2 linked regions of the Homo sapiens genome follow. The protein of the gene in region 1 interacts with the protein of each later gene in a biochemical or structural test. Each region holds a gene or a part of one and is shown in the gene's direction. Other genes may lie near its edges.

Region 1 (2,188 bases):
AGTTAAAAATTATATTCATTTTGGGATACACATGCAAACATGTTTTAGTAGTAACCGTTAAAACAGTTTGAGGTTACTAATTTAGATTACTAATTCAATGGGAACATTTGCCCAGTTTTCATAGGTCTCCATTTAAATTTGCTGGTGCGGCCTGGCGCGGTGTCCCACGCCTGTAATCCCAGCACTTTGGGAGGCCAAGGCGGGCGGATCACGAGGTCAGGAGATCAAGACCATGCTGGCTAACGTGGTGAAACCCCGTCTCTACTAAAAATACAAAAAATTAGCCAGGCGTGGTGGTGGGCGCCTGTAGTCCCAGCTACTTGGGAGGCTGAGGCAGGAGAATGGCTAGAATCCGGGAGGCGGAGCTTGCAGTGAGCCGAGATCCTGCCACTGCACTCCAGCCTGGGCAATAGAGCAAGACTCCATCTCAAAAAGAAATAAATAATTAAATTAAATTAAATTTGCTGGTACTTCTGTAATTTTTACTTTAAATTTCTTACTAGCAATACAGGCCTTCATTAAAACCCTAATTTCTTTTCTTTTGTTTTTATTCTTTTTTTAATTCATTCTTGCAACCTGTCTTTTAAGGATAGATAGACTTTTTGAAGAAACTCTTCTTTTAAGAATAGACTTTTTGAAGACACTATTCAATTTTTTCTCCATCTCAGAAAAAAATTTATTCTCAGATAAGCCTAATAAGTCTCAGATAAGTCTTTTATTATGATCATTGCCCTCATGCAGCAGGAAGAAATTCTGAGGAGCAACACAGAGTGCGATATTTGGACAATTCCAATCTTTCCAGAATCAGGCTTTTTCCAAAGCTTCTATCATTTCGTGAAATTTCAGAACATGGCACACACCCATAAGTGAGAATCGTGGCATTACACACCCCAAAACATTTGGGGATTATCTACTACTGCACCTGCTCACTAGCATGGAAAATTAAAATAAGAGTATATTTCAGTTCCTAAAATATTGTAGACATGGCATAATTGTATTTTAGCAGAGGAAGGAAATCATATGAGACACAATGGAAAAAAACTGCTGGAGATGATTTATTTAATGCAGTGACTTTCAAACATTTTTTAATTTGACCAACGACCAACAGTAAGAAATATATTTTACATAGGTTGCATCATAGGTATAGTAATAGAATAAAAATATTAGAGTGCAGAGCCCAGATTTTATATATGTATTATATATATAATATATACACACACACATGCACATATATATGTAAATGTAAAAAAATGTTTAAAAACTTATTGTATTCAATTATACTTATTTCATTAAGGCGTAGGGACAAAGTTTAAACAACCCTAACCTAATGTATTCTCTTTTTTTTCTATACTTAAGGTGTCTAAATGTTCTGAAGAAATAAAGAACTATATTGAAGAACGTTCTGGAGAGGATCCTCTAGTAAAGGGAATTCCAGAAGACAAGAACCCCTTTAAAGAAAAAGGCAGCTGTGTTATTTCATAAATAACTTGGGAGAAACTGCATCCTAAGTGGAAGAACTAGTTTGTTTTAGTTTTCCCAGATAAAACCAACATGCTTTTTAAGGAAGGAAGAATGAAATTAAAAGGAGACTTTCTTAAGCACCATATAGATAGGGTTATGTATAAAAGCATATGTGCTACTCATCTTTGCTCACTATGCAGTCTTTTTTAAGAGAGCAGAGAGTATCAGATGTACAATTATGGAAATAAGAACATTACTTGAGCATGACACTTCTTTCAGTATATTGCTTGATGCTTCAAATAAAGTTTTGTCTTGGGAAGATGAGTGTTGGTGATTTAAGAAGACACTTTTCATGCATTAACTTTTATATTTCTCCCCGTAATCTTTTGGGTGTGGAGTATGATTGGGTTTGGAATATGATTCAGAAGGTTAGGTGGTTCGACAGATCACATCTCCAAACCCTGCGTCAATGGTTTAGAGTGCTGAGTTCTGACCTCTGGAACGTGTTTGATCTAACCTTAACTATTAAGAAACTGAGCAGGTAGAATTCCTATAACATTGACAGAAGTCAGATTATCTGAGTCAGGAACAAGGCCAAGCCACATCTATGTTAGTACTTCCCTAGTTTATCATCATTTAGATCTTCTTAATAGTGTTCCTGTAGTAGTAGCCTTGAAGAAAATACTGAGTTGGGGTTCAGGAAGAGTGCCCTGCCTCTCTGCCGTGT
Region 2 (3,500 bases), on another chromosome or scaffold:
AAATATATTCCCTATGTTGATTACAGACACTCAACTTCTGCCGAGTGTTGTAGTTAATAAAGCTTAAAAAATTCTGGGCTGGGTGTGGTGGCTCATGCCTGTAAACCCAACACTTTGGGAGGCCAAGGTGAGCGGATCACCTGAGGTTGGGAGTTCAAGACCAGCCTGACCAACATGGAGAAACCCTGTCTCTACTGAAAATACAAAATTAGCCCAGACGCGGTGGCTCACGCCTGTAATTCCAGCACTTTGGGAGGCCGAGGAGGGTGGATCAGCCTGGCCAACATGGAGAAACCCCATCTCTACTAAAAATACAAAAAATTACCCAGGCATGGTGATGCATGCCTGTAATTCCAGCTACTCGGGAGGCTGAGGTTGCAGTGAGCCGAGATCGTGCCATTGCACTCCAGCCTGGGCAACAAGAAGGAAACTCCATCTCAAAAAAAAAAAAAAAATTAGTCGGGCATGGTGGCACATGCCTGTAATCTCAGCTACTCGGGAGGCAGAGGCAAGAGAATCGCTTGAACCTGGGAGGCGGAGGTTGCGGTGAGCCGAGATTGTGCCATTGTACTGCAGCCTGGGCAACAAGAGTGAAACTCGGTCAAAAAAAAAAAAAAAAAGTCCGGACACTTTATAATTAGATGAGCATGTCAAAAGAGTCTACAATAGGTTTCAGAAAATTTCTCATAGGAATTTTAAAATAATTCCTAAAATCTAGGGAGTGAGAGAAATTCAGTAGTTTTCAAAAGGATTGGCACTGTCTGAGTTAGAGCCCAGCTCAGCTCTGTTGCCTCACTGGCTGATTTGCAGTGTTAGGACTTTTATTCGCACTGAAAATCAAGATCAGTTCAACTTCTACCCTTCCACTCCACAGGAGCTTTCTGTCCTCCCTGAGCCTGCCTTAATTTAGGCCACCTGCAGTGTTAGGACTTCTGTGTCTGTCCTTATCTGTGAAACAGGCTCCTAGAGCCTCCTTCATGGGGTCATTGTGAGGATTAAATGAGTCCTGATGTGGGCACTGATAACAGAGCTCAGTGCAAGGATTAGCTATTTCTGTTGCTGATGGCCTTGCTTTGTAAAAATTTCTTTTATGGCAAGGTTAACAAATGTTATAAGATGACAGTTTACTGAGATTTTTCTTTTTTTCTCCATGGTTCCAGAAGAATATTAATTCAGGGTGTGGAACATGCATATTAGCTATCTTTGCAAATCCCTATCACTTATTTACTGCCTTACTTTCTACTAAATCTCTCACATCCTTATCTTTTCTTGAAAGGTTTTTTTTTCTTTTTCTTTTTTTTTTTTTTTTGGGACAGGGTTTTGCTGTGTCACCCAGGCTGGAGTGTGGAATGTGATGGTATGATCATGGTTCACTGCAGCCTGGACCTCCTGGGCTCATACGATCTTCTTCTCTCAGTCTCACAAGTAGCTAGGACCACGGGCACATGCCACCGTGCCCAGCTAATTTTTTTTATTGTTTGTAGAGACAGGCTGGTCTCCAACTCCTGGGTTCAAGTGATCCTCCTGCCTTAGCCTCCCAAAATGTTGGGATTATAGATGTGAGCCACAGTAACCTGCTCTTAAAGGCTTTCCTTTACCTTTGTAGAATAATCTTGAACTATGCCTCATTTTGAAAACTGGTAAGTTTATGTCCTTTTTTTTTTTTTGAGACGGAGTCTTGCCCTGTCACCCAGGCTGGAGTGCAGTGACATGATCTCGGCTCACTGCAACCTCCACCTCCTGGGTTCAAACAATTCTCCTGCCTCAGCCTCCAGAGTAGCTGGGGTTACAGGCACCTGCCACCATGCCCAGCTGATTTTTGTATTTTTAGTAGAGACAGGGTTTCACCATATTGGCCAGTCTGGTCTCAAACTCCTGACCTCGTGATCTGCCTGCCTCGGCCTCCCAAAGTGCTGGGATTACAGGCGTGAGCCACCACGCCCTGCCCATTTATGTTCATTTTTTTAGAGAATTCTCCTCCTCCCATTTATGAAGCTAGATTTTTTTTTAATTTCACCAAAATTTGTTGACGTCCCTTGATTTGCTGATAGGGACAATAATTAAATATTTTCCACTTGTTTTTATAAAAACTGTAATGGTGATTTGTTTAACAGATGTTGACTTAGCACCTTCTCTCTTTTTTTTTTTTTTTTTTTTTTTTGAGTTGGAGTCTTGCTCTGTCACCCAGCTGGAGTGCAGTGGCACGATTTCGGCTCACTGCAACCTCCGCCTCCCAGGTTCAGGCGCTTCTCCTGCCTCAGCCTCCCAAATAGTTGGGATTACAGGTGCATGCCGCCACGCCTAGCTAATGTTTTTTGTATCTTAGTAGAGATGGTGTTTCACCTTGTTGCCCATGCCGCTCTTGAACTCCTTGGCCTCCCAAAGTGTTAGGATTACAGGCGTGAGCCACTGTGCCTGGCCCCAATTTAGCACCTTACTGGGTGCTGAGGCTGTGAGCCATAGTAGAATGCATGTGATCCAGGGCCTTGCTGAATTCATGGTCTAATAGGGAGCCTGACACGCAGGCACAGAGCGGAGGGCAGTGGCTGTGGCTCCCAGGGACACCACCCTGTCCAGAGTTCAGTGGCAGCTTCTCATTAAAAAAAGCTTTGAGACCTGAATTGGAGTCTGTCTGGCAGGCAGGTGGGGATGGAGGGGAGGAGTGTATCCTAGGCTGATGAGATGGTGTGTTTTTCATCCGGCAACCAACTGGTCTCCTTCACTGTCTCCAGCACCCCGCACAATACTGTGTGCCAGGTGCTCAGTAATTATTTATCAAGCGCATAAGAGCACAGCACATCCAGGGACGGAAGTTCCAAAGGGCTAGGAGAGTGGTTAGACCTGGAAGCCAAAAGGTTTACAGTCTGGATAAAGAGCTTTTACCTTGAGGCCGGGCACAGTGGCTTATGCCTGTAATCCCACCACTTTGGGAGGCCAGGGCGGGCGGATCACTTGAGGTCAGGAGTTTGAGACCAGCCTGGCCAACATGGTGAAACCTTGTCTCTACTAAACATATAAAAATTAGGCTTGGTGGCGCACACCTGTATTCTCAGCTACTCATTAGGCTGAGGCACAAGGATCACTTGAATCTGGGAGGCGGAGGTTGCAGTGACCCAAGATCACCCTAGCCTGGGTGACAGTGTGAGACTCAAAAAAAAAGAAAAAAATGAACTTTTACCTCGAGAGCTCCAGGAAGCCCTGAAAGAGTTTTAAGGAGATTGATCTGATGGGGATCATTACTTGGTAGTTGAGCGTAGAGTGCTCAGGGGAGGGAGGGGACTCTAGTCAGTTGGCAAAGCTGCTGTAGAAGAGGAAAGGGGTCTGGACCAGGTTGACGATTGATAAGACCTGGTGACCGAAGGGAAGGCGAGAGTGGCGAGAAAGATGTAAATGACCACAGGTTTCCGTCTGCCCTCTGGGTGGCTGTGGGTCATGATGAGTTTAGTTTGTGTGTGTTGGGTTTGAGGAGTCTCTGAGGCTTTCTCATGTTTTGCATCGAG

Evidence for each region.
Region 2: the proteins of GNG11 (region 1) and GNB1 form a complex in vitro, tested with the Homo sapiens proteins (3 studies listed by BioGRID).

Annotation. Positions count from the first base shown.
Region 1 is NC_000007.14:93,924,735-93,926,922, forward strand, and holds part of GNG11 (guanine nucleotide-binding protein G(I)/G(S)/G(O) subunit gamma-11 precursor), read left to right. Parts: intron 1-1,356; coding exon 1,357-1,482; 3' UTR 1,483-2,188. UniProt on the Homo sapiens protein: Guanine nucleotide-binding proteins (G proteins) are involved as a modulator or transducer in various transmembrane signaling systems.
Region 2 is NC_000001.11:1,881,088-1,884,587, reverse strand, and holds part of GNB1 (guanine nucleotide-binding protein G(I)/G(S)/G(T) subunit beta-1), read left to right. Parts: intron 1-3,500. UniProt on the Homo sapiens protein: Guanine nucleotide-binding proteins (G proteins) are involved as a modulator or transducer in various transmembrane signaling systems.